4 linked regions of the Homo sapiens genome follow. The protein of the gene in region 2 purifies or fractionates together with the protein of the main gene of each other region. This does not show direct contact. Each region holds a gene or a part of one and is shown on either strand. Other genes may lie near its edges.

Region 1 (7,023 bases), on a different chromosome or scaffold from region 2:
GAGCAACTTTGGAGAAAATACTGAGTTCTCCTGATTGAATTTTGTCCCCTTCTTGTATAAGGAAAGAGTTGATGTAGTTTCCTGGGTGTAGATGGTTTGAGAGATGGTACTGCCTATCCCTAAAATGAACCAGGCAGCCCTCACACTTCCCCACCAGCAGTGAGAGATTCCTGGCTCAGACACAGCCACACTACCTTGCTGCCCCTGTGCATGTCTGCCAGGAAACTTTTCATTGTGCCTCTCTCTCTTGTCACGTAGCCCTGCGTTCTGAACTCACGGTGGCTGCTGCAGTCCTGGTGCTGTTGGTGATTGTGATCATCTCACTTATTGTCCTGGTTGTCATTTGGAAACAGGTAGATATTTTCTCATAAAACTAAAGATCTTTGAAGCCAATGAGAACAAGCATAGCAACCTAGTTCAGTGCTTGGCACAGAGAAGGAGCTCAGCAATTACATGTGGAGTGAACGTTGTTGGACTCTACTGTGTCCAGTCACTGTGCTGCTTCAGTGAAGCTCTGGTGCACTGGGACTTTGGTAATTCACCAGTTACCTGTCCTGGTCATTTATAGAAACCGAGGTATGAAATTCGCTGGAGGGTCATTGAATCAATCAGCCCAGATGGACATGAATATATTTATGTGGACCCGATGCAGCTGCCTTATGACTCAAGATGGGAGTTTCCAAGAGATGGACTAGTGCTTGGTAAGTTCCATGGGGTAACCTCCCAAGACTCCCTTTTCCCTTGCACACAACTTTACAATTTATAGGCCTTGGCAGAATAGAGATCTGAGCTTGTGCTTAGTAAGAACTAGGCAATGGAAATTTGCTTTCAGAAATACATTTCTGTCTTGACAGTAAGTTAATTGGATCATTGCAATGATTTTTTTAAATCTCTTTCCATAACAAATTATAGTTAAGGAAAATTTTACAAAGGGAGAAGAGAATATGAAGAGGGCTGGCAAAGATACCCACCAAAATTGCTTTTCTTTAGAAATGACACAAATTGAAAATGAATTTCTGTGACTAAAAATGAGCAGATGAGAAATGAATGAGGACAACCACAAAATGTATTTTGATTCAGTACATTCTGAAGATGCATTAGATACTCCTTTTTACATATTTGGAATATGGAATATAAAAATATAGGTACATTTTGAGGCAAAATATGTAAAAATAAGCAAGCCAACTTATCACAAGCATTTCAAGTATTTCAATCCTGGGCTGAGACCAAGTATATGAAGCTTTAGTCCAAGGGAGTATTTCTTTTTTAAATCACATTCCTAATGAATGAAAGCAAGACAAAGGCAAATGAAAGTAGAGGTAGAGGTTGTGTTATGATGAATGATCTAACAGTATATATGTTAAAGAATGCCAAATGCAGGTTTTAATTATCCACCGGTCTCATTGCAAAATACAGAAGAGTTTAAGTCTTCTTAGAGAGTTAGGTAAACTGAAATCAAGCAAGGCACCAGAGTGAAATCACCTTTGCAAAAATTGTAACTGAGGAAATTATGACAGTGAATGAGATATGACCTAACCAACTCCATTTTGCTTTAGCCTCCAAGTTGTCCTTGTTCCTTCCTGGGCATAGGCCGAACTAACTTTGAGAGGAACTTAGTTTATAGTTTGACTTTGAAAAAAAGACAATAATAGCCCTTTGCCAAAACAAACCCTCTTTTTCCCTGGGAACTAGACTGCCTTTGCGGGACTAACGAATTAGCTACAAGATTAGAAAGTATGGTTTAGGGGTCACTGTTGTAAAACCTGAGGTCAGTGCTTGAGATATTTTGGAGACCCTGTATTTCGATGCACCAGCTGACACCACCCAGGTCAATAAACTGGCTCATCTGATCTTGGGGCCCCTACCTAGGAACTGACTCAGTGCAAGAGGACAGCATCAGCTCCCTATAATTTCATCTTTGACCCAACCAATCAGCACTCCCCTTTTCACCCCCTACCCACCAAATCATCCTTAAAAACCCCATTCCCCCAGTTTCAGAGACACTGATTTGAGTAATAGCAGAATAGTAGAAATTCCCCCAGTTTCAGAGACACTGATTCGAGTAATAGTAGTAATAGTAGAATAGGTCTCCCGTACAGCTGGCTCTGTGTGAATTAAACCCTTTTTCTATTGCAATTCCCCTGTCTTGGTAAATCGGCTCTGTCTAGGCAGCGGACAAGGAGAATCCATGGGGCGGTTATAAGAGCTGCCCCCCAATTTCAAATATTTATATCTAAGCTTTCTTTATTTTCCTGCCTATTTCCCAACAAGGGATGAGGAGCTTAGGGAGTTAAAAAGTAGTAAAATATGGGGAAAAGGGCATAATTCCCATTATACCAAGAGGCATTGCTGGTGAAGCAATACCTTTCCAGGTACGATTTTCAGTAACACAGACGTGCAGTAAGAGGCAGTGTTGGCTGTTAGTGTCTTTTATGAGCCAAGTCTTTTCCTGGCTTGGCTATCCGTGGTGAGACTGACACCCCGGGAAATGTTTCTCTCAGGGTGAGCTCTTTCAGGGTGGGACAACAGCTTCAGTGTCTTTACGTATGTCTCCTCCCAACATGAAGCTAATTGCTGTGCTCTCGGGCATGTTTAGCTCTTGGTAGAGTGGCTTTCCTAACAAATAGGGAGCAGTGAGCCCAGCCTGAAGTTTTTATTTAGTCACTCCTTAGAATCAGTGATATTTTGAATACTGAAGTATTTCCAGTGGCTAGTAATTTACTAAGACAAAAGATGCCCCTGTTTGCATATGGAAAACAGAAGGGGAGAGAGCCAGGAGGTGTGGGTGAGAGCCCCGAAGGCAAGAGGATCCCAGGGGCTGGCCCAGCACGGAGCTGGTAGACAGCGCGCTCACACCAGGGAGGGCTGCACCCTCCTTTCTCCCGTCTGTGTTTTCTTTCCCTTGCAAGTGTTATTCGACAAAAGCAATTATGCTAATTTCCTTCCCTGTGGGCTCAATTCCTTTTTTGACACGATGACTTGGAGGAGTCATTATGATTACTCCAAACAGGAAAGACACTCGCCCAGCTGTCCGCCCGCAGAGAGCTGGCTACGGTGCAGAAAGCTGAGGAGGCGTCTGGAGTTTTTGGGTGTTAATGATTCTGCCTGCCCACAGGTCGGGTCTTGGGGTCTGGAGCGTTTGGGAAGGTGGTTGAAGGAACAGCCTATGGATTAAGCCGGTCCCAACCTGTCATGAAAGTTGCAGTGAAGATGCTAAAACGTAAGTGCTCCTTCCTGGGGATTTTTTGAGCACGGGGATTTTTTGAGCATGGGGATATTAAGGGAATTTCTCAAAATCATGCAGCTAGTAAATAAGACATTTAGGACTAGGTCCTGATTATTTTGACTCCAGGTTTTATGTGTATTTAGATTAGGTTTATTTAGATTGCTCTTGCTGCCTGTATGTTGGAAAATTAAGAGCTTGTTATTTCCAGTGACTTCTTTTTACTAGAAAGACCAGGAATTAGTTATTAGCACTGAGGCCAAGTAGCTATCTGCTTCTTTTAGACTTCTGGTAAATAGAATGATATCCAATCACAGGATTAGTCATATTCTTGGTTTTTTTCTGAGAACAGGAAGTTGGTAGCTCAGCTGGACTGATATGTGATTTATTCTTTCAACAGCCACGGCCAGATCCAGTGAAAAACAAGCTCTCATGTCTGAACTGAAGATAATGACTCACCTGGGGCCACATTTGAACATTGTAAACTTGCTGGGAGCCTGCACCAAGTCAGGTGGGCTCACTGACCTGGAGTGAGGATTTTCACTGGACACATGTGGTTGTGAAAACTGTTCAATCAGGCTTAAATCCTCCACTCTCCATCCCCACACATGGCAGGGAATAGAAGTCCCTTGAATGGAGCTGACTGGTCCCTTGAATTGATGGAAGCTCATTGGTTTTTGAGCAAAATCTGTTGCCAGTCCAGTCATAGCCATTCATGGCTCTTTATTAAAAAAAAAAAAAAAAAAAAAAAAAAAAAACTTTTTTGGTATCTTATTTTTTTCTGTGCCATATGGTCTGCAGGACAATTCATGGCTTTTCTGTTCTTCATTTTCATACCCATCTCCTAACGGCTTTTGTCCCCATAGGCCCCATTTACATCATCACAGAGTATTGCTTCTATGGAGATTTGGTCAACTATTTGCATAAGAATAGGGATAGCTTCCTGAGCCACCACCCAGAGAAGCCAAAGAAAGAGCTGGATATCTTTGGATTGAACCCTGCTGATGAAAGCACACGGAGGTGGGTGCAAAGAGAGATGTTGCTGTCTATCATTATCTTACAGGCATCACAAATGGAAAGACCCATGTCCTGATAGATATCATGTCTGCAGATTCAGTGCCCAAGGTAGCAAGACTTAGAGTCAAACCACCCTGTCCAGTCTTTCCATGGTCATGCAGAGAGATGCATGATGTCTAAAGGTGTTTTGGACTGGGGTGTCACATGGGAAGGCCTTGCTGATAGGTTTGAATGAGAGTGAGTTAGAATGACTCTGGGAGCTCTTCTGCTATTTACATGTGATCCACTTAGACCTATAAAATGCAGCTCTGGCCAGGGATGCTTGAGTTCTGGAACCTTGCAAGAACTGTCTGTGGATCTCCAAGCTCGAGGTCCTTGCTGAACCTGGACCTATAAATGACGTCAATGATAGTGATCCCTACTGCAGAAATCTACAAGTGGCTATAAAGAACTCTGTAGGTAAGAAATTCTGTAAGATCAGAAAGTACAATGAATTCACTTCATAATAAATTACTTGGTGGACACCAAATGGGTGCTAAATTGATTGGGTAGAAGGAATTGTATGCCCAAGCCACATGGCCACACGGCTCAAGTTCCAACCAAGGCTTGTGAGTTGAAAAACTGAGAAAGAATAATGACAGACTTAACGTAGTGAATTCTTCAAACTTTAAGTGTAATGGACTTACAGGTCCATGGGAGCACAGCCCCACTGTCTTAGATGTGGCTCTTCAGGATGTGCGGGCTCCTGCTAAGGATGTGCAGGGAACTGGCTCTGAAAACAAGTGAACAGTAGTCATCATGGCAGCTGACATTTGTGGAGTCCTTTGTATGTGCCAGGTGCCATGACAAATATTCCGCTAGTCTTTCCCATCTTTGTCAGTGGGATCCATTCTACGTCTTCTGAAAAGTGCTTCCTTGACCCCCAGATCAAGTCATTTTCCTTACAAGCTATTGAAACCTTTCTTCCTTCACAACACAGCTGAGTTTGAGTTGATCTGTGTATTTATTTTGTTTTTTACATTTCTTTTTTTCCCTATTTAAAAAATTTTTTTATTTCCATAGGTTTTTGGGGAACAAGTGGTATTTGGTTACATGAGTAAATTCTTCAGTGGTGATTTGTGAGATTTTGGTGCACCCATCACTGGAGCAGTATACACTGAACCCAGTTTGTAGTCTTTTATCCCTCACCTGCCTCTCAATTTTTCCCCGAGTCCCCAAGTCCATTGTGTCATTCTTATGCCTTTGCATCCTCATAGCTTAGCTCTCACTTATGAGTGAGAACGTACGATGTTTGGTTTCCATTTCTGAGTTACTTCACTTAGAATAATAGTCTCTAATCCCATCCAGGTTGCTGCAAAAGCCATTAATTCATTCCTTTTTATAGCTGAGTTACATATATATATATATATATGCACACCTACACATACATATGTATAGATACACTGCAGTTTCTTTATCCACTCCTTGATTGATGGGCATTTGGGGTTGGTTCCACATTTTTTCAATATGTGAATTGTGCTGCTATAAACATGTGTGTGCAAGTATCTTTTTAGTATGACTTCCTTTCCTCTGGTAGATACCCAGTAGTGGAATTGCTGTGATGCATGTATTTGTGCGACTATTTGATTAATGCTCATTTCCTTGACTAGATCACCTCATGTGAAAGGTATGGATTGGTTTTGCTTTTACCCAGTTAGCTCCCATGCCTACCTCAGTACCTGGCACATAATCATCATCTACTGAAAGTGGAATGACCACTTCAGAAGGGCACCCTGGGTAAGATTTCTCTTTCTGTTTTTACAGCTATGTTATTTTATCTTTTGAAAACAATGGTGACTACATGGACATGAAGCAGGCTGATACTACACAGTATGTCCCCATGCTAGAAAGGAAAGAGGTTTCTAAATATTCCGACATCCAGAGATCACTCTATGATCGTCCAGCCTCATATAAGAAGAAATCTATGTTAGGTAAAAGTGTCTATACTCACTCTGGGTGTTGGGACTTTCCAGTGGTTTAATATGATACTTAAAGTATTTAGAGGGAAGTGTATAGGGATGGTAAGTGAACCTGGCAGCCCACGTGGTCTCTAAATGCAGGTCTGCACAACCAGTTCTGTGACATGTTTCCAGGTTTGTGGCCTGTAAATTGAAAAGAATAAAAGCTGACAATGTAACAAATTTTTTAAACTTTAAATTTAATAGTTTTAAAGAATTTTCTTGGTGTGTTCCTGCAGTAAACATTTTTTAAAAAAAATAATTATTTATTCTGATATAATGAACTTCCTTTTTTATTGCTGTCTTTTTCTTTTTTAATGAAAATATGGTGATTGATTTTTTTTAATGCCCTTACTTGGCAGAATTACAAGTTGGCTGTCTTATGTTGGTTCCTCACCTTGCTTTTTTTCCCTTAAGTTTTAGAAGTCTCTGATGTCTATGAGTTCAGTAACCCTTGCTTTTACTTTTCCTAACATTCAATTTGTGATAGGAACTCTAGAGTAGATAATTTGCAGTTATATTTTCTGGACCAGTGTTTCTGTTGAATGTATTTTGAAGGTGGGTCTATCTGTTTTTCAAGTACATGAATATGTGGCAGGGTTAAATTGATTTATAAACTCCAGGGAGTCCAGCTGATGCCCAGACCAGATGGATCACTTCACATCTGCTCAGGGTGGTTCCTCCAGAGCCCTGAACTGGTCACAGACATGAAGCTGGAAGTCTGACATTGGCTTGTCCTGTGAGCTTGCCTTTTTGGGTCTGAGCCTTCCCATTAGTCAATGCAAA
Region 2 (7,636 bases):
TATTGTCCTTAGGCCACGGTCACCTTCTGGCCTGTCTTCTGGCCTTTGTAGAAGAGAAGCTGGATCGACATGACAGTGTACATTTGAAGTTCTGCTTATTTCCTGCACCAGTATCGACCAAGCCCTGCAGTGTGTTGGGCACAATGCCAGGCACTGAGAGGCCACCATACAGAAACCTGAGTGCCCTGCTGTGTTCAGTGAGCTGATGTCAGGGGAAAAGGGAATCAGACAAGTCAAAGGGAGCCCACTGAATCCCAAGGAGTGATGAGAAGCTGAAGAGATAGAAATTTGGAGGGGCAGAGGCTCATCTCCTGCAGGGATTAGGAGAAGGTTCCTGGATGAGGTGCCTGGAAAAAAGAGCAGTGCTTGGGAAGGGGAAGGCGGGAAGGGAGGGAGAGAAAAGCAGACGGGCAGGTGGGATGTATGCTGTGGGAAGGTAGAGGTGTCTGGGATGGGAGCAGGAGCTGATGAAGAGGGTAGGGAAGGTGGCTGGGAAGGGGGTTGGGACCAGCTGGCGCAGGGGTCTGAAAGTGATTAGCCTTTTGGGTGGGAGATACTTAAGATATTTTAAGCAAGGGTGTGATGAGTTCAAGACTGGGCTGTTGAGAGATGGCTAGCACCAAGCCTGGTCCATGTAAAGTGCTAGAAGCATGTTTGCACAGGGGGAGGGTGGACAGGAGATGGGGAGAGCTAACTATGACCTGTGCCTGTCATGCTTCTTAGCATCACGTCCGAATTCATTTACTGCTCACAACTCCCCACAAGAGACAGATATTATTGTTACTATTATCCTCATGGTACAGAGAAAGAGACGTTGGCCCACCATATGCATGTGGGAGGTGGGGGCCAGGGTGGACAGAAAGCAGCTATGGTTGCTGAGGATTGAGAATGGGGAGTGTAGCTGTGCTGCTGGTGCCGGTGGGACAGCACATGGGCCCAGACCTGCTCTGAGCGCCACCCACACACAGCCAACTGTCTGCTTGATGTGCCCACAGCCCCTCCATCTGGTATGTCCAAACTGAACTCCTGACCTTTGTCTCCTCCTCCCCACACCCCGTTACTAAGCCAGATCTTCCCCCTGTTGTCCACTCCAGTCAAGGCCACCGCCATCTAGTTGGCCATCCAAGCCAGAAGGCTGGGTGGCATCCTGGGTGCCTCAGTCTCCTTGACCACCTACCCCACCTCCCACCCTCTGAATATCCCTCTAATCCATTAACTTCTCTCCCCATCCCCCGTCACCACCTAGTTCAAGCTGCCCTCATCCCTCATTTAGACGGCTCATCTCCTCCTTCTGCTCTGCTCCAGGCAGCAGCCAGAGTCACCATTTAGAAAGGTCAGTCTGCCGCAGGCCTTTCCCTGTCTCGCACACCCTATCCTGAGTGGTATGGCCCCTGCTGACCCCTCTATGTCACCTAGCCCATGGCCCCTCTGAGTCTCTCAGCTTCAACTGCAGAGACTTCTTTTAGATCCAGGTAGGCAGGTGCTTCTCCATTCATTCATTCAGCAAGCGGCAATTCCTTCATTTATACCTGCTGGGTTTAGGGTGTTGAAGCAGACAGGCCTGGCCTCGTCCTCAGGGAGTTCACATTGCGGTGTGGAGGTAAAGTCACAAAATGAATCCACTGGATCTTAGCACATGTTGCTCCTCTGCCTGAAAAAGTTTTTGTTTAAACTTCCACTCATGCGGTGCTTGCTTGGGGCAACCTCTCCTGGATGGCCAGGCTGGGCCTGGCGGCTTTTCTGAACAGTACTGACCTCAGTTGGCAAGGGTAGCTTGTTAGTATGCATGGCCGTCTCCCTCTTCGACAGTAAGCCCCACATGGGCAGGCCCTTGTCTGTCTTGTTCATAGTTGTCCTCCAGGTCCAGGCTAGTAGACCCTTGCTAAATGTCTGTAGAATGAATGATAGGTTTTTTTTTTTTTTTTTTTTTTTAGAAGGAGTATTGCTCTGTCGCCCAGGCTGGAGTGCAGTGACATGATCTTGGCCCAATGCAATCTCCGCCTCCCGGGTTCACGTGATTCTCATGCCTCGGCCTCCTGAGTAGCTGGGATTACAGGAGCAGTGTGCCATAATTTTTTATTGTGGTAAAATATACAAAACATAAAATTTATTATTTAACCATTTTTAAGAATACAGTTCGGTGGCATAAGTACATTCATGTTTTGCATCCATCACCACCATCCATCTCCAGGACTTTTTCATTTTCCCCAGCTAAAACTCTGCACCCATTAAACACCAACCACCAATTCCCTCCTCTCTCCAACAACTGGCAACCACCATTCTACTTTCTGAATCTATGACTTTGACTACTACAGGTACCTCACATAAGCGAAATCATACTTTTGTCCTCTGTGACTGCCTTATTTTGTTTAGCATAATGTCCTCAGGGGTCGTCCATGTTGTAGCATGTCAGAACATCCTTCCTTTTTAAAAATTTATTTATTTTGAGACAGAGTCTCACTCTGTCACTCAGCTGGAGTGCAGTGGCAGGATCATGGCTCACTGCAGCCTCAACCTCCGAGGCTCAACTGATTCTCCCACCTCAGCCTCCCAGGTAGCTGGGACTACAGGCATGCGCCACCACACCCAGCTAATTTTAAAAATTTTTTGTAGAGAAGGGGGTCTCACTGTGTTTCGTAGGCTGGTCTCAAGTGATCCTCCCACCTTGGCCTCTCAAAGTGCTGGGATTAGGTGTGAGTCATAGTGTGTGGCCTCTAGAGCACTAACTTTAAAAAGCTACAATTACAAATCCTTCCTCTGTCCCTCTGAGATATATACCTATGTATTTCCTACAACCTAGGAATGTCTTTCTCAAGGACCTGAAATCCATTCCTTTGGAATGTAATCATCATAAAGGTAGGGCTCATGTCTCCCAGTCTATGTGGGAGAATAGAATCCTAACTTCCCTAATTGCCAGCTAGCAGACACAGTTGGCCTAATCACATTTACGCTAAGCACTCCTTTTAATTTTTCACTTCCCAGACTCTAAGTGAGCCCCTGCATGCTCCCCTGCCTACTCCCTTATTCTTCCTTTGGAATGCCCAATCACCCCTGCGCAAATGGAATGGAGTTCAGCTGCTTCCCCTACTGTCAGTAGTTACTGAATAAAATCTATTTTCATCATTTTAATGCCTGGCTTTGTTTATCTTTAATAATATCATTAACTAGAGTTCAATCTTTATTTATGGTTCTTTTTGTTTGGTTTTCTAGTGAAGATGAAATTGCTTTGAGTAAAATGTGCAAATACTAAATGTACCATTAGATAATTTTGACAAATTCATACACCCAAATCTCCTATCAAGATATATATCAAGGATGAGGAGAAATTTGAACCCCTGTGGATTGCTAATGGGAATGTAAAATGGTTCAGCTTGCTGTAAAAAATGGTGTGGTGGTTTCTCAATACATTAAACTAGAATTAGCATATGATCCAGCAATTTCACTTCTGAGTGTATACCCAAATGAATTAAAAAGAAAGCAGGGACTCAAACAGATATTCGTACACCCATGTTCATAGCCGAATTATTCACAATAGCCAAAAGATGGAAGCTATCCGTGTCCATGACTGCATGAATGGATAAACAAATTGTGGTGTATACATATAATGGAATATTATTTGGCCATAAAAAGGAAAGAGGCCAGGCACGATGGCGCACACCTGTAATAACGGCATTTTGGGAGGCCAACGTGGGTGAATTGCTTGAGCCGAGGAGTTCAAGACCGGTCTGGGGAACATAGTGACACCCTGTCTCTGAAAAAAAATAAAATAGGATTAGCCAGGCATGGACGTGTGTGCCTGTAGTTGGGAGGATGGCTTGAGCCCAGGAAGTCTAGGCAGCAGTGAGCACCATTGCACCACTGCACTCCAAGCTGGGTGGCAGGGCGAGACCCTGTCTCAAAAAAAAAAAAAAAAAAAAAAAAGGAAAAAAAGGAAGCGCTCTGGGAAAGGGAGGCTTTGGCTGGAACAAATGGTGAATTCTTTTGGCACCCCTGAGCTTTCTTGGGCAGGCATTTTAAAGGGGCCTAGGCCCACCTAGAGATCCGCCCTTAGGCTGTTAACTTAGCATGATGCCATGTTAGAGTTTAGTCAAGTCTCTTAGTGCAGTGGTTAGGGTAGTCGTTAAATGCTGAGGAGTCTTTGTAGTTCTCAATTAGCAGGCGAGTTTTTAGGGATGAAAGGTACTGATAATTTACTTTGAATGTATCAAAAAATAGGATGGATTGCTGGATGCAGAGACGGCATGTGATAAAGCGGATACAGCAAATGTTACTGGTAGAGAGTCTGTCACCCAGTCATTAGAACATGAGCTCCAGGAGGGCAGGGACTTTGTTGGCCTGGCACATAGGCGGTCAACAAATATTTGCAGAATGAACGAACAATACTTGTAACGGCCTTAGGACAAACAAGTGCACAAAAAGAGGAAGCTTTCCCTGACTCTGTTGTGGCGGGGATCCGGACGGTGGAACGGACGCACAGAAAGTGCGCGGAGCCTGGCGGAGTCGCTCTGGCCTCCTGGAGCCTCTGCTCTATGGCGGGTCCTCCCGGGGCTGCGGAACCTCTCTGGCCGCTCGTGGCGTCCGCTCTATGGCCGTCCTTTGGGGACGCAGGAGCATGCGCAGAACTGCTCCCGGCCCGGATCGCTATGGCAGCGGCGTCGTCGCGGGCCGGGCCCCAGCAATCCCGCCCGGGCCCGGCTGCCTCAACAGCCGCCCCCACTGCCCCCTCTCGGGCATGAACCGAGCTTCTTGTTGCCGCCCGCTGCCCTACCCGCCGCTGCCGCCGCATCCCGACTCTGGGCCAGCGCTGGGAACATGCCCCTGGCCGCCTACTGCTACCTGCGGGTCGTGGGCAAGGGGAGCTATGGAGAGGTGACGCTTGTGAAGCACCGGCGGGACGGCAAGCAGGTCTGCAGGGGTGGGGCCCGGCAAGGGGCGGGGGCGGGCAGAAGTGCGCCGAGGGCGCCGACCGGTAGATTAGGTCGGGGGTGGTCGCAAGAGGCTCATCTCGGATGGCGTTTCCTCAGGGAAATGGTCCCAGACCAAGACGAGGCCTGGCCTCCCTGTAATATGCGCCCAGAACTACTTCTACTTCTTTGTTGTGTTAAATTTTTTTCCTTTTAATTTTCATTTTCTTTAATTACAATTCTAAGTTTTATGTAAAAATTTTCAGTCTCTGCCTATCTACTTCTTTGTTGTACTAATTGGCATGCGTGATCTACACACCTTTCTCCCAACCCCGATACTCTCATGAGAGCCGGTATCATGCATTCCCAGGACTTAATACAGCGCCTAGCAAGCATTATTCCTTGAATGAAGGGCCCCAAACGTCTCTACTGTAGACTGCTGGATTCACTTAAAACTCGACTCATTTTCTTCCCGCCAAACCTTCTCTCATGTCTTCCGTTTCAGTGAATAGTGACACCAACCCACCAGTTGCCCAAGCCGGACACCTGGAGTCATTTTTAAGCCTCCCCACGCACCCCAACACTGATTATATTCATCTATCACTAAGACAATAGGCCTCCTCTCATCTCTACTGCTACCACCCCAATCCAGGACACCCTGTTGTCTCTAGCAAAGCTATGGCCACGGTTTCCCAACTGGTCGCCGCCACTTGACTTGCTTTTCTCCAATCCATCACTTTCACTGCAGCCTCAGTGATCTTTCTCAAATTTAAATCTGATGTTGTCACTCCTCTGTTTAAAACACTTTATCCCATTACTCTCAGGATAATGAACCAATTATTCAATGTGGTTTATTAATAGGGTGACAATATAATGTACAAACTGGGACAATTTTGAAACTGAAAGGCATTATTAATAGTTACACCAGGACAGTAGGACTGCTCCAGGCAAGCTGAGAAGAGATGTTCCCCCTAAATATAGGGCCCAATTGCCTGTTCTTCCTTGTCTCTGGTGCTAGTTGCTTTGCGTGGAACACAAGCTCATGCATAAGAAATTTATTCAGTAGGCATTGGGGGAATCATTGGATTTTGGGGCTGATGATAGGGAACTAGCAATAGCTAGTTATTTGAGCTTTAGTTTACACTTCACAAAACACATTTATCTATGTGTTGAAGAAATGAATTGTATGGTCTTTGAAATGATTGAGGGCAATGTATTAGGTATTAGAGGCTATTGATTTCTTTTAAGTGTGAATAATTTTGTATGCTGAAGATCAGTGACTATTAAACTTATGGGGCCATGGATCCCTTTGAGTATCTAACGTAATCCACAGACTATTCTGTCTGCAAATGTATAGTCAAGCTATATTTTATTCACCTTTTTGGGAGAGCTTAGATATTAAGGAATTTCTTTTTTTATTTTTTATTTTTTTTGAGACAGAGTCTTGCTCTGCCTCCCAGGCTGGAGTGCAGTGGTGCGATGTTGGCTCACTGCTGCAACTACTGCCTCCCAGGTTCAAGCAATTCTCCTGTGTCAGCCTCCCGAGTTGCTGGGACTATGGGTACACACCACCACGCCGGGCTAATTTTTGTATTTTTAGTAGAGACAGGTTTCACCATGTTGACCAGGCTGGTCTTGAACTCCTGACCTCAGGTGATCCACCCGCCTCACCCTCCCAAAGTGCTGGGATTACAGGTGTGAGCCACTGTGTATGGCCAGATATTAAGGAATTGCTAACACAGGTTTTATAATTGATCCAATGGTATGTTATCTTGAACTCACTTTTTTTAGTCATTAATGAAATTGTGAAATGCAGATGGGAAAGGTAATTTTTGTGGCCCTACACTGCTATAAATCTAACTTATAAGAAGTATCAATAATAGCAAATATTTTCCCCGATTTTGTGCTTGGTGAAAAACAAAATGAATAGGTTATCTGACAGGCTCCACAAGGTTGGTTTTGAGGGTATTCTTGAGAGCCCTTAGATAACTCTGAGGCCACAAATCTTACGTTTATTTGCACATTGTAAAAATACATGGTTTGTTTTTAGTATGTCATCAAAAAACTGAACCTCCGAAATGCCTCTAGCCGAGAGCGGCGAGCTGCTGAACAGGAAGCCCAGCTCTTGTCTCAGTTGAAGCATCCCAACATTGTCACCTACAAGGAGTCATGGGAAGGAGGAGATGGTCTGCTCTACATTGTCATGGGCTTCTGTGAAGGAGGTGATTTGTACCGAAAGCTCAAGGAGCAGAAAGGGCAGCTTCTGCCTGAGAATCAGGTGGTAGAGTGGTTTGTACAGATCGCCATGGCTTTGCAGGTACTGTGTAGACTAATAGCATCCTAGCTTGTTCCCAGATGGCAAGAAGATGGCAGGTGTATTTTAGGAAAATTTTTCTTCAGATACTTACATATAGAAATGTATTTTTTGGAAAATTCATTTGTGAAGTTGACCCAGTCACTCTTTCTGTAGCATTGGAACTTTTCTAAGTAAGTGATACCTATATTAAAATAGACATAGATTTCATGTCTGATTGCAGGGGAAGCCCACTCAATTACCATTTATAGCAAAGTCAATTTTAAGGACCCTGAGGCAACCAAGAGCATAGAGTGACTATGTTTGTTATCCATTGGTCAGTCGTGTCATGCTGAAAGGTGGCTAGGCTAATTGATATGCCCAGTGATTTCATCTGTCAGTCTGCTGGGGTACAGTAGATGGGAATGCAAAACAAGTT
Region 3 (7,023 bases), on a different chromosome or scaffold from region 2:
GCCCTGGCTGGAGTACAGTGGTGTGATCTGGGATCACTGCAACCTTCGCCCCTGGGCCCAAGCAATCCTCCCATCTCAGCCTCCCAAGTAGCTGGGACAACTGGTGCACCATCATGCCCATCTATTTTTTTGTTTGTTTGTTTTTTGGGGTTTTTTTTTTTTTTGTATTTTTAGTAGAGACAGGGTCTTGCCATATTGCCCAGGCTGGTTTTGAACTTCTGAGCTCAAGCGATCCTCCTGTCTCAACTTCCCAAAGTGCTGGGATTACAGGTGTGAGCCACAGTGCCCAGCCTAGTGTATGTTATTTTGATTTTAACATTGCACTTGTATATTTTTAATGTCCATATTGTATACTGTAGACCCTACTCAAAGAATAAATCTGGAACTATTCATGAAAAACCCCTCCAGTAATCACCTAAATTCTTGAATGTTAGAAGCACTTGATAGGACTCTAGCTTTGTACTTGATCACATTTACTCATGTGTTCCTCTGAAAATCATTACATCACAGGTTAACCACCTTTTTAGTTTGCCCTAAAATTTTCTCCTATGCATAAGCCCAATGAACACGGAGAAATGGTAAATTTGTATTATGTTCAGTGAAAGGTTATTCTTTTTAATTCTAAAAAGGTGGGCAAGCTGATTATCATTTATAATTTAAAGGTTATATTTGATAAAGAAGGAGATCGTCCTTCTGTGGTGATCATTTCTTCAAATAGAGTAAATTTTAAAAATCACTTTAAGAATCCAATAGAGAACAACAAAGCCATATTGAGATGCAGGTTTTAGGAATTTGGTAGTAATCCCTCACAAGGTCAGACTTGATCTCCTGGACAATCAGGGCATGCTAGTCAGCTTTCATGACTCAGCAAAGCTACAAATTATGTATTTTGGCTTTTTGTGGAAATTGCCAACCCTACAGATAGCAAACGTCTCCTCGGTTGTCAAAAAGTAAGAGTAGTTTTTAGAATTCTGCCTTTGGGTCTTGTAGAATGAAATATTTACAAGATTTGCTATTTGTTAACATTTTAGCTACTTCCTTGTTCCTTCAGTCTTGCTGCTGTGCACACCACCATACCAGGAATATGAGGGAGAAAGCTAGCAAGACAGCTAAATAATTGGAAATTCTGCTTGGAGGTTAGACTGTGTTGTAAAATGGTACAGACAGTGCCTGGGCATTTTCATTGATAGAATCCTTGGAGTCGTTTGGGGTTCGTTGTCAAATGATGTCTGGCAGTGCAGCAGCATGATAGGAAGTGAAGAAGGAATGCTTATTTGCAGAGGAAGGATGACTTTTTTTTGGTTTGAGGCATGTCAAACTGATGGTAAAACCTTTTTTATCCCTAAGTTTAGTTTTTAATGTTGCTGCATAATTAAATTGGGTTTTTAAAAGTAGATCATTGGATTTGGAGGCAAAGGACTTAAGGTCTGGGCCCCGTTTACTAGCTTTGGCTTCCCTGGACTTTTTGGATATTAAAGAGTCAAATGAGATTATGAATAAGCTTCTTTCTTGGGGCCTGTGGGGAGGTGTTGGGAAGTAACTCATCTCTGAAAATTGTTGGCAGCAGTGGAATTGGCATGGAATTTTCAACAGAAGGCAGATGTAGCTAGTTGTCTAAAGTAGAAAATAGAAGATGGTAAAGGTTAGAATGGAAGTTTGTCTCGTTCCTTCTTGGGAGTGCTGTATCATCTATAGTCATCATCCTGCCATGTCACTTGTCAGTGTGCCTGTTTGTGTGTCTCGGTGGTCTGGTTACCATAGTGCACTTGTACAGCATCAAACCACAGAACCTGGTGATGTTAGTCACGCCTCTATAACCTGTACTTTTGTTATTCAGAAATATGACTTCTAAGTGTTTTCTGGTCTAGTGCTTGGTGGTCCCTCCTCATTAATCTTGTTTTTCAGAAACTCTCTGGCATCCTTGCTTGTTTATTCTGTTTAAACTTTTAACATCAAATTGTTTAGCTTCCCCGCTCTGCTGCAACAACCATCCTGATAATCATAATCATTTTTTATTGAAATCACTTTCAGTTGAACTCTCCTGTACAAGAACGTGATGTGTATCTCTTCCTGTTCCCTTTTCTTTTTTTTTTTTTTGAGACAGTCTTGCCCTGTCACCCAGACTGGAGTGTAGTGGCGCAATTGTATTTTTAGTAGAGATGGGGTTTCATCATGTTGCCCAGGCTGGTCTCAAACTCCTGACCTCAAGTGATCTGCCTACCTCGGCCTCCCAAAGTGCTAGGATTATAGGTGTGAGCCACCGTGCCCTGCCCCACTTTTTATTTTTGTTTTTATTTTTGAAATGGGGTCTCACTCTGTCACCCAGGCTGGAGTGCAGTGGCGCGATCTCTGTTCACTGCAACCTCCACCTCCCGGGTTCAAGTGATTCTCCTGCCTCAGCCTCCCAAGTAGCTGGGACTACAGGCTCATGCCACCACACCCAGCTAGTTTTTGTATTTTTAGTAGAGACAGAATTTCGCCATGATGACCAGGACCTCAGGTGATCCACCTGCCTCAGCCTCCCAAAGTGCTGGGATTATAGGCATGAGCCACTGCATGCATCCTAAAATAGTATGACTTTAACAAAGGATATTTGGTAAGATGGTTCTTAGAACACTGGCATTTTACAGTATACTTAGCATTTATTTTAAATTTATTATTATTATGTTTAAGAGACAGGATGTCCTTCTGTCTCCCAGGCTGGAGTGCAGTGGCTGGATCATTAATGAGGAGGGACTGCCCCTGCAGGCTCCAAATCCTGGGCTCAAGGGATCGTCCTGCCTCAACTAGCCTAGTTTATGTTTTAATTTTTTGTCTCCCTATGTTGCTGTTTTGAACTGGCCTCCCAAAGCTCTGACCCTATATTTAGCTTTTTTAAATTTTTTTATTTTTTTCTTATTGAGATGGAGTCTCGCTGTGTCGCCCAGGCTGGAGTGCAGTGGTGTGATCTTGGTTCACTGCAGCCTCCGCCTCCCAGGTTCAAGTGATTCTCCTGCCGCAGCCTCCTAAGTAGCTGGGACTACAGGCGCGTGCCACCACACCTGGCTAATTTTTGTATTTTTAGTAGAGATGGGGTTTCACCATATTGGCCAGGCTGGTCTTGAACTCCTGACCTTGTGATCCGCCTGCCTTGGCCTCCCAAAGTGCTGGGATTACAGGTGTGAGCCACTGCACCTGGCCTACTTAGCATTTTTAATGCGTTGAAAAATCCTGCATTAAAAAAACTATTGGTCCCATTGTGAGGAACACTTGAATATATGTGCATACATAACATACCTTCTTGGATCTCAAACTTTAGCACACACACAAGAATTGCCTGGAGGGCTTGTTAGGACTACAGATGCTGGATCTTGCCTGCCTTGTTTCTGGCAGGAATGGAAGTGGGGCCCAAGAATATGTGTTCCTAACAAGTTTCCTGAAGCTGCTGGTCCAGAACCACACTTAGAGAATCATTGGTTAAGGTAATGGTTTAACTTTGTTTAATGAGTAAATTTAGGAGAGTAACATAGGAAAAGAACCTGTCTACCAGATTTTCTATAAGTGAACCGGCCAGGATTGTTCTTTACAAGAAGAGTGACCATTGTAAAATCTAAGCAAAAATTGCAGGTTGGGCGTGTGAAGTTGGATGTATTTTTCCTACACATTGAAGGCTCAGAAACATTCTTTGTGCTTATTCTCAATACCTTTTGCATTACCTAGTCCATAGGCTTATAGTGTAATATTGAATGAGCCAGTTTTGCATTTTAGTGAGATGTGAGACTTGTTGGTATGTGTGTGAAGCACGGAATTGAGCCACTTGACTTTGCTGGCTGGGTGTTAACTGGTTGATGTTGGGTTTTATGTTGATCTTGGACCCTCCCCCCTTCCCTGTTACGATCATGTCTGGGGAGCACTCCAGGGTGAGCCTGTTCTGTAGGAGCCCTCTGGGCATTCTGTACCTTTTTCACCAGAGGCAGAGTCTGAAAGTGGGCAATAGTTGCAGAATATACCTGGCACTGTTTTGAGGGCCTCAGTTCTGTTGCTCTTATATATGCCATTGTTTACCAGTTCCAGTACACCTTCCTCATGGAAGTTTCTCACATACTACTTGGGAATAGCTAGCTTTCCTAATGCGGTTTAGGGCACTAGGGACAGTGGCACTTTGGATTTGCAGTGAGTGGTAGAAATAAGGTTTTGAAATTAAGTCAAGGAACATAATGCTGCAGGGTGTACCTCCATAATTTTTAAGAAAATGTATTTCTTTTGTGCTTTATTTATAGGTATTTCAGAGAGATGGGAATGATTTGCACATGACATATAAAATAGGACTTGTTGAAGCTCTATGTGGATTTCAGTTCACATTTAAGCACCTTGATGGACGTCAGATTGTGGTGAAATACCCCCCTGGCAAAGTAATTGAACCAGGTAAATCTTGATTTTGTCCGATTCTGGTTTTCAAGTATTTTTGAAAAAAATTACAATTTGTAATTTTTTTATACTGCATAACTCTAAAAAAAATTGAACACCTCTTTTGGGTAAAATTATTAATCATTTCCTCTTAAATAATAGGGTGTGTTCGTGTAGTTCGAGGTGAAGGGATGCCGCAGTATCGTAATCCCTTTGAAAAAGGTGATCTTTACATAAAGTTTGATGTGCAGTTTCCTGAAAACAACTGGATCAACCCAGACAAGCTTTCTGTAAGTGTTCTTTAAATTAAACAACAGTTGACTTCCAAGTTTGGAGTTCGGTTTTTGGTTTTTTAGACAGGGTCTCTGTCACCCAGGCTGGGGTGTAGTGGTGTGATCGTGGCTCACTGCAGCCTCGACCTCCTGGGCTGAAGCGATCCTCTCACCTCAGCCCCCAAGGAGCTGGGACTACAGGTGTGTGTTGCCATGCCTGGCTAATTTAAAAAAAATTTTTTGAGACACAGTCTCACTGTGTCACCCAAGCTGGAGTGCAGTGGTGTAGTCTCGGCTCACTGTACCCCCCGCCTCCCAGGTTCAAGTGATTCTCATGCCTTAGCCACCCAAGTAGCTGGGATTACAGGCATGAGCCACGATGCCTGGTAAGTTTGTTGTTGTTGTTGTTTGTTTGTTTATGGGGTTTTTTTGTTTGTTTGTTTTTGTTTTTTTTTTTGAGATGGAGTCTTGCTCTGTCACCCAGGCTTGAGTGCAGTGGCACGATCTCAGCTCACTGCAAGCTCCACCTCCTGGGTTCATGCCATTCTCCTGCCTCAGCCTCCCAAGTAGCTGGGACTGCAGGCACCCGCCACCACGCCCCGCTAATTTTGTTTTTGTATTTTTAGTTAGAGACAGGGTTTCACCATGTTAGCCATGTTAGATCGATGGTCTCGATCTCCTGACCTCATGATCCACCTGCCTCGGCCTCCCAAAGTGCTGGGATTACAGGCGTGAGCCACTGCACCCAGCCAAGTTTCTTTCTTTTTAAGAGAGTCTCGCTCTGTTGCCCAGGCTGGCGTGCAGTGGCATGATCATGGCTTGCTACGGGTGTGTACCACCACACCTGGCTAATGCTTTTTAAAACTTTTTATAGAGATGTTGCTATGTTGTCCAGACTGGTCTCAAGCAATCCTCCTGCCTCCCGAAGTTCTGGGATTGCAGTCGTGAGCCACTGCACCCAGCCGACTTCAAGTTTCTTAATAGTCATGTTACTTTCAATTTTAAAGTATATTTGTGTGATTGGTAGGCTTTCCTAGTTGTTAGGAAATGGGGTATTGCTGGTGTAAATGTTGATGGGGCCAAGCAGGGAATTGTAGAGGAGTAAAGTAGACCCGGTGTGGGTGGTGATGAGGAGTAGCACTCCCTGGAGAGAACAGGTTCCTCATTTGCAGAGGGCAGGACCACTACCCCTTTATCGTAAGCTGGTGTCCATGCCGGATGCAGGAAGGTGTGTCTCCTGTAGAAACTTTCTAATGTTTAAGTATTGGCAGATAATGACCTTTTTTTTGGTTCTTAAAGCAATAGATGGGTTGCACAAAAGATGTCTGCAGAATTTGGCCTGTGAGTGATGAGTTTGTGATCTTTTACTTAGAGTTCAAAGTCCAGTCCACATTCCTTTTTTTAACTTTTTTTTTTTTGAGATGGAGTCTTGCTCTGTCACCCAGGCTGGAGTGCAGTGGCACAATCTCAGCTTACTGCAACTTCCACCTCCCAGGTTCAAGCGATTCTCCTGCCTCAGCCTTCTGACTAGCTAGGATTACAGGTACCCACCACCATGCCTGGCTAATTTTTTGTATTTTTAGTAGAGACAAGGCTTCACCATGTTGTCCAGGCTGGTCTCATCTCCTGACCTCATTATCCGCCCGCCTCAGCCTTCCAAAGTGCTGGGTGGGATTATAAGCATGAACCACCACACCCAGCCCCTTTTTAAACTCTTAAACAGACACTGGATTCTATGTATCAAAAGGAAAGTTGATGAAAATATTACAACCAACCTGGTTTTTGTTTGTTTTAATAAAGGAACTAGAAGATCTTCTGCCATCTAGACCGGAAGTTCCTAACATAATTGGAGAAACAGAGGAGGTAGAGCTTCAGGAATTTGATAGCACTCGAGGCTCAGGAGGTGGTCAGAGGCGTGAAGCCTATAATGATAGCTCTGATGAAGAAAGCAGCAGCCATCATGGACCTGGAGTGCAGTGTGCCCATCAGTAAACTCTGCAAACAAATTGCACAGGTGGATTTTCTTTCCACATTTGCCTGATTTGTTCTCAGCAATCCAGCTGGAGTGTCTTATCAATCCAGATGAACTGAGGGACATCTGTTGGTCTATGTATAACTTTTAAAATTGGTATAGTATCTACAGAGTGTATAATTTAAACTAACCACAAAGCTTTACATCTTCATTTTGACTGTTCCATAGCAGAATAAAGCACTTGAAAGGAAACAAGACTCCCTTTCACACATGGATTATTATAAGTTTCAATCCTGGTATCTGTGCTTGATTTTTATCAGTTTTGTGTAGATTTTTATGTTTCATATTTTAAATTTAAATCCCACATTGTAAAGTTTGTACAATTTGTCCTGA
Region 4 (6,873 bases), on a different chromosome or scaffold from region 2:
GAAAACATAAAAGAGACCAGTGATGAGTGTTCCTAAGGTATGTTCTTGAGAAAAAAATGTCTAGGAAGTTGTGGGTTATGCAGGTTTCTTGGTCACAGAACTTCTTAAGCCTTCATATATAATGAAACGCTCAAAAAGAAGAGACCTTTTCTAGGAAATCTTTCTGTGGGTACATGCTGGCAGAGCTAAACTTTTAACCTGCTTCAGCTTAGGGCACACTGGATGAGGACTCCCGCCCCTAAGTCCATGGGCCATGCCCCTTCTGTTGGCTAGCAGCGGCAAGCAGCCCCTTTCCACCTAAGGAAATAAAGCCACTCGGGTTGTCACAGTGTATCTTTGGAACTATGAGTGAAGCAAAGGTAATATAAAAAGTCCCCCCTCCACCCTACATTCCTCCCACCCACCGTACCTTCTCTGGGGGCAGGATAATCCGACAGGCCATGTCCCAAGTCAGGGAGAACATGACAGGCATGAAGTGGGACACAAAGGGCTTGTGGCGGCCACCTTCCTCCTTGCTGAGGATGTAAACCTGGAGGAGAGCAAGCAATGACGGTGAGCTGGGCTTGGCTGGAGGCTGGGGAGAGCTTGGCTCAACCCTGCCCACCGTCACCTGGAGCCCTCACCTGGGCCTCCACCTTCTGGTGGGGCTTGATGGAACCTGGCTTGACCATGACCAGGCCCCGCCGCAAGTCCTCCCGCTTCAAGCCTCGGACCAGGGCCCCGAGGTTATCTCCGGCCTCGGCCCTCTCCAGGCTCTTGTGGAACATCTCAATGCCTAGGACGGAAAGGGAAAAGGAGCAGGGAGAAGGAAGGCGAATGTGAGACAGAGGGAAGGCACAAGGGATCTGCCGGGGTAAGGCCACCCTTCAGCCAGGCCCTGCTCTCCAGACTGGCTTCCCAAACCTGTCACCACAGTGCGGATGTTCTTGCTATGTCCTAGGAGCTCACACTCGTCTCCCTTCTTTAAAATGCCACGCTCTAGTGTACCTGTCACCACGGTGCCACGGCCTGGGAGGGAATAAGACAGGATATCAGGGACCCCGAGCTAGGCTTCTGCTAGAGAGAGTGCGTGGGAACAGACAGAGTCCTCACCAGGGACGGAGTACACCGCCTCCACAGGCAGCAGGAAAGGCTTCTCCAGGTCCCGGGCGGGCACTGGGATGTAAGTGTCCACAGCATCCAGTAGCTTCTGCACAGACTTCAGGCCTAACTCAGGGTCCCGACCCTGTTGAGGGGAAGTGCCAGGACTCTGAAATCCCCATTCTACTTCCCTCGATTATCAAGAGCCACTTCCCAGACACAAAGCAGAGCTCTGGGTGCCCATCCAGCCCCACCCTCTGCAGCAGCTGCCCTGCCTGACCCCGCGTTCACCTCAAGGGCACAGAGAGCAGAGCCTACGATGACTGGGGTCTCCTCCCCTTTATAGCCAAACTCGGTGAGCAGCTCCCGGATCTCCAGTTCCACCAGTTCCACCATCTCAGAGTCCTGGACAGCGTCAGCCTTGTTCACATACACCACCACATGCTCCACCCCAATCTGTAGATGCCAGAGAGACAGGGACAATATACAGAGGGGCCCAACTCCCCACTCTTCCCTTTTGCATCCTTACCCAGGCTCTGAGTACCTGTCTGGCCAGTAATAAGTGCTCTCGGGTCTGGGGCATGGGGCCGTCATTGGCTGCTACCACCAGGATGCAGCCGTCGAGGGGTGCAGTGCCTGTGATCATATTCTGGAGAGGAGAAGGAAAGGAAACAGCCAAGTTCAACGAGCTCTTCAGTTCACATCCATATAGCCAAGTGTAGCAGTTAGAAACTCAGGCCCACCTTTCTCTACCATCTCCTCACCACCCATTCTGCGTGGCCAAGACCACAAACCTGCCATCTCATACCCAAACACTGAATATCTTAATCTCCTCCCCACAAGCCTAACATTTATCCTGACAAGAGGCAGCTTCTGGCCCTGTCTCCAGTGTCCCAGCAACCCTCACCTTAACATAATCTGCATGACCCGGGCAGTCTGTGTGGGCGTAGTGGCGGGCGGCAGTGCTATACTCCACATGAGCCGCATTGATGGTGATACCCCGAGCTCGCTCCTCCGGGGCATTGTCAATCTCCTCGTACTTCTTGAACTTAGCCCCACCTCCCTCAGCTAGAACTAAAGGAGGAAAAGAACACACCTCTCAGCTAAAGTTCCAGTGCTAGAGGCAGAGCTTAGACCACGCCCCTGAACCCTCCCACCTAAATACATAACCTCCTCCAATCTCTAACTCTTCCAGCAGAGAGAACTGTGGGTCAGAAAGAAATGTTAGAGGGCCTTAAGGGTCTGCCCTGTGACTTCTTTAGGGTACAGCCTCTGCTTGCAGAGCATTCCCCACGACTTTGTGATCCCCAAGCCATTGGTGGATCACAAAGTTCTTCCTGTTCAGGAGAAATTTGTCTCTTGCATCTCCCAATCCACCTGTCGCACAAATTCGGGCTCTTGGGGCCACAGTAAACTCCTCCAGCAGACACTCTGCTGGCCTTGCCTCCCTGGCTCCAGGTCCCATCAGTAGATAGGGCGCTGCTGGACGCCCCAACCCCACTCACTCTTCGTGATGGCTGCAGTCAGCGTGGTCTTCCCGTGGTCCACATGGCCGATGGTACCCACATTCACATGTGGCTTGTCGCGCACGTAAGTCTTCTTGGCCTCCACGGCCAGGCCGCGGCACAAGAGAGGCAATGCCGGGGCTTTCAGCAGCCGCAACAGACCCTGCAGCAGGAAGGTCCGGCCGGCGGCGAGACCTGCCGGGACCGAAGCTTGGAGTCAGGCAGGGAAGGGGTCAGACCGAACCCAGCCACCTACCACTCCCCCAAAGTGTTCCTGGGCCGCCATCGCCCTCCCTGACCACTCACCGCTGAAGTGGGGCGTCGCGCGCAGCAGGGTGGCGGCCGCCATTGTGGTCATACTCGCGCCCCGGTAACCGGGGAGCCGGGACCAGGAGCCCGAGCGCACAGAAGAAGAAGGGCGCCTGCGGCTGGAAGGCACTTCCGGCGGAAGTTAGAGCTGGGAGGGCAAGTCCGGGCCCCTCTAGCCGCCAGTGTCTATGGCCGTCTCAGCCGACGTCGGGCGCGCGGCTGAAGACGTCATGGAGGGGGCTGGTGTCTCGAGGGCGGAGTATGATGGAGAGGTTTTCCACCACTCGCGCCTCTCGGGCTGAGGGGCAACGTAGTTCTCTCTGGCGGTCGCAGGGGGCACTGAGGAGCGTCCCCTAAATCACCGGCGCCGCGAAGGCTCATGGGCGTAGTAGTTCTCAGGTCGGCGGGCTGTGGAGGTGATCAGAGTGGGAGTCAGGCGGGCTAGGCCGGACCCGGAGGGAGGGGCTCGGGCTCCGGGAGGCAGCTGCGGCTCCGACTGCTCAGGAACCTCCTCCTGGGCCCGGCAGAGAGAGACCCCGAGTCCCCCGGAGTCCGACTCGCTACGCGGGTCTTGCGAGATATCTGGCCGCCTCTGCCGCAGCTGGAGGTAGGGGACCAGGTCCTGGACGCCTTTCGGGGATGGGGTGAAGTGTGACCTCCCTCTTCGCTGAGACTTTGTTTTCTAATCTGTAAAATGGGAATAGTAGTATCCACTTCATAGGGAGAGCCTGACATCTAGCCCTGAGAGGAGATGAACTGGGTAGGAGTCAGTGTTGGGCCCTGTGAGGTCAGGCAGCTTGCGGGGACCCTGTACTGCTAGACCTCACAGGGCCAGAGCCCACAAGACAGACAGCTTCGCTGCCCACCCCTGTAGTCCCTCAGCAGCCTAAGGAGCAGTTCCGTTGGGCATCGCCCCACCCATCTAATTTTGCAGATGAGGAGCCAAGGATGAGGAGCCAGCTAGGGGAGCCTTTAAGGGGAGCCTGAGTCTCCTTTAATCTGTCGGTGTCCCCAGCACCTAACAGGGTGGAGCATGCAGTGAATGTTGAATGAATGGGTGCAAGGGTAGTCAATGTCCCTTAACTTTCACATCCATCATCTCATGGCAGCTTCCACAGGGCACTCCAAAGTGTTAATTATGGCTGCTTAACCCTGGCTAATGTTTCGGAACTCATCAGATCCTGAGACTCAGTGGACAGTGTTTGTTTCAAATAGATTCCCTAATTCCTCCCCTGGAGGTTATGATTCCGTGGGGTCTATGCACAGACTGGGAAGCTATATAACAAACACTCTTCTAAAACTGAGAAGAGGCTGGGCACGGTGGCTATAGTGCCAGCCTATAGTCCCAGCAGTTTGGGAGGCTGAGGTGGGAGGACGGTTTGAAGCCAGGAGTTCAAGACCAGCCTGGGCAGATTAGGAGACCCTATCTCTACAAAAAAAAATTTAAAATTAGCCAGGCACAGTAGCATGCAGCTATAGCCCCTCCTACTCAGGAGGCCGAGGCAGGAGGATCGCCTGAGCTCAGGAGTTCAAGGCTGTGGTGAGGTATGATCATGACACTGCACCCCACCGTGAGTGACAGAGAAAGACCCCATCTTTTTTTTTTTTTTTTTTTTTTTTTTGGAGACAGAGTCTCACTCTGTCGCCCAGGCTGGAGTGCAATGGGGCGATCTCGGCTCACTGCAACCTCCACCTCCTGGGTTGAAGCAATTCTCCCACCTCAGCCTCCTGAGTAGCTGGGACTACAGGCATGTGCCACCACGCCTGGCTAATTTTAGTATTTTTAGTACAGATGGGGTTTCACCTCGTTGGCCAGACGGCTCTCGAACTCCAGACCTCAAGTGATCCGCCCATTGTGGCCTCCCAAAGTGCTGGGACTACAGGCGTGAGCTACCACGCTCAGCCAAGAAAGACCCCATCTCTATAAAAATATTTTGGCCAGGCGTGGTGGCTCACACCTGTAATCCTAGCACTTTGGGAGGCCGGGCGGGTGGATTGCTTGAGTTCAGGAGTTCGAGAACAGCCTGGGCAACACGGTGAAACTCTGTCTCTACTAAAATACAAAAAATTAGCTGGGCGTGGCAGTGTGCACCTGTAGTACCAGCTACTCAGGAGGCTGAGGCAGGATAATTGTTTGCACCCGGGAGGCGGAGCTTGCAGTGAGCTGAGATGGTGCCACTGCACTCCACCCTGGGCGACACAGCGAGACTCCGTCTCCAAAAAAAAAAATTTTTTTTCAAATGAAAACTCAGAGGAGTTTAGGAAACTCTGAACTAGAGCTTTATGATGTTCAGGCATTCCTATTGTTTCACAATCAGCGCTCCCAGTGCTACCCTGGGTAGTAGGAACTATTATTTCCTCCATTTTGCAGGTGTGAAAACTGACGGTCAGGGTGATTAAGGAATCCACCACCACTAAACCCCAAAAAGTGTGCACACCGCACTGTCCTTTTTTTTTTTTTTTTTTTTTTGAGACAGAGTCACACTCTGTTGCCCAGCTGGAGTGCAGTGACACGATCTCGGCTCACTGCAACCTCCATCTCCCAGGTTCAAGCGATTCTCCTGCCTCAGCCTCCCGAGTAGCTGGGATTACAGGCGCCTGCCACCACGCCCAGCTAATTTTTGTATTTTTAATAGAGACGGGGTTTCACCATATTGGCCAGGCTGGTCTTGAACTCCTGACCTCAAGTGATCCACCCACCTTGGCCTCCCAAAATGCTGGGATTATAGGTGTGAGCCACCATGCCCAGCCAGACTGTACTATAATTTAACTCTCATTTTACTGCTCAGATAAAGTGAGGAACTTGCTAAGACTTCTCTCTTCCTGGCCCTCCAGTTAATCAGTTCTGCTTAGGAAAGGCTGGTATCATGTGTAGTATAAACAGATTTTGTTTTTGTTTTTTTGACAGAGCCTTGCTGGGTCTCCTAGGCTGGAGCATAGTAGGGCAGTCACAGCTCACTGCAGCTTCAGCCTCCCAAGCTCAATCTACCTCAGCCTCCCAAATAGCTGGGATTACAAGCATACACCACCACACCTGGCTAATTTTTGTATTTTTTGTAGAGATGGGGTTTCGCCATGTTGGCCAGGCTGGTCTCCCAATACCGGGGCCCAAGCCGTCTGCCCACCTTGGCCTCTCAAAATGCTGGGATTACAGGCATGAGCCACTGTGCCCAGCCTAAAAGGGTTTTCTGTTTCTACTCTGTACCTAAGTCACTGTACTCCTAGGAATTTATCCTAAGACACTATTGGCCACTAGCAAGTTATGAGTTTTTGGGGGTGGTATTTGAATTAATGGTTTATATTTTTGTGGTGCTATATTTATTTTAATGTGTATTAGCTTGAAAAAAAACTGGCATAATAATCAAGTTTTTAAAAAAACAGATCAACTTAAAAGAATATTGTTTGGTAGATAATATTATGGATGCACTGGGCACAATGGCTCACACCTATAATCCCAGCACTTTGGGAGGTCGAGGCAGGCGGATCACTTGAGGCCAGGAGTTCGAGACCAGCCTGGCCAACATGGTGAAATCCCGTCTTTACTAAAAATACAAAATTACCTGGGCATGGTGCACGCCTGTAGTCTCAGCTACTCAGGAGGCTGAAGCAGGAGAATCGCTTGAACCCAGGAGGCGGAGGTTGCAGTGAGCCGATATCACGCCATTGTACTCCAGCCTGGGTGACAGAGCGAGACTCTGTCTCAAAAATAAAATAAAAACTATTATGTGTGGTATGAATATATGGCAAATTTTTTGGAAGGTAGTGAATGAATGGCTAGAGTTTGAGAAACACGGTGTTCGGAAAAGAGCCCAGAGAAAATTTTTTCTAGAGCTGTTGACCGTAGCATCCTCTGTATTAGTGAATGGCTCAGTCAGAAGTCTTGACTTACAGATAACAGATTTTACATTGGCTGGCTTAAGCAGAGGAGGGATTTGTTAAGGGTATTAGGCAGCTTACAGAATTGTGGGGCAAACTGGAG

The links.
Region 1: the proteins of NEK4 (region 2) and PDGFRA purify together in Homo sapiens (affinity purification with mass spectrometry; 2 studies listed by BioGRID and IntAct, with this or other methods). This does not show direct contact.
Region 3: the proteins of NEK4 (region 2) and DNAJA2 purify together in Homo sapiens (affinity purification with mass spectrometry; 2 studies listed by BioGRID and IntAct, with this or other methods). This does not show direct contact.
Region 4: the proteins of NEK4 (region 2) and TUFM purify together in Homo sapiens (affinity purification with mass spectrometry; 2 studies listed by BioGRID and IntAct, with this or other methods). This does not show direct contact.

What each region holds. Positions count from the first base shown.
Region 1 is NC_000004.12:54,274,273-54,281,295, forward strand, and holds part of PDGFRA (platelet-derived growth factor receptor alpha isoform 1 precursor), read left to right. Parts: intron 1-258; coding exon 259-353; intron 354-568; coding exon 569-701; intron 702-3,115; coding exon 3,116-3,220; intron 3,221-3,623; coding exon 3,624-3,734; intron 3,735-4,089; coding exon 4,090-4,243; intron 4,244-6,043; coding exon 6,044-6,210; intron 6,211-7,023. UniProt on the Homo sapiens protein: Tyrosine-protein kinase that acts as a cell-surface receptor for PDGFA, PDGFB and PDGFC and plays an essential role in the regulation of embryonic development, cell proliferation, survival and chemotaxis.
Region 2 is NC_000003.12:52,767,923-52,775,558, reverse strand, and holds the start of NEK4 (serine/threonine-protein kinase Nek4), read left to right. Parts: upstream 1-4,618; 5' UTR 4,619-4,812; coding exon 4,813-4,905; intron 4,906-6,954; coding exon 6,955-7,221; intron 7,222-7,636. UniProt on the Homo sapiens protein: Protein kinase that seems to act exclusively upon threonine residues. Required for normal entry into proliferative arrest after a limited number of cell divisions, also called replicative senescence.
Region 3 is NC_000016.10:46,956,656-46,963,678, reverse strand, and holds part of DNAJA2 (dnaJ homolog subfamily A member 2), read left to right. Parts: intron 1-4,259; coding exon 4,260-4,404; intron 4,405-4,548; coding exon 4,549-4,676; intron 4,677-6,458; coding exon 6,459-6,650; 3' UTR 6,651-7,023. UniProt on the Homo sapiens protein: Co-chaperone of Hsc70. Stimulates ATP hydrolysis and the folding of unfolded proteins mediated by HSPA1A/B (in vitro).
Region 4 is NC_000016.10:28,843,327-28,850,199, forward strand, and holds the start of TUFM (elongation factor Tu, mitochondrial isoform 1 precursor), read right to left. Parts: upstream 3,023-6,873; 5' UTR 2,944-3,022; coding exon 2,892-2,943; intron 2,781-2,891; coding exon 2,586-2,780; intron 2,155-2,585; coding exon 1,988-2,154; intron 1,730-1,987; coding exon 1,625-1,729; intron 1,537-1,624; coding exon 1,372-1,536; intron 1,226-1,371; coding exon 1,093-1,225; intron 1,009-1,092; coding exon 904-1,008; intron 776-903; coding exon 624-775; exon of another isoform or gene 593-623; intron 530-592; coding exon 410-529; intron 1-409. UniProt on the Homo sapiens protein: GTP hydrolase that promotes the GTP-dependent binding of aminoacyl-tRNA to the A-site of ribosomes during protein biosynthesis. Also plays a role in the regulation of autophagy and innate immunity.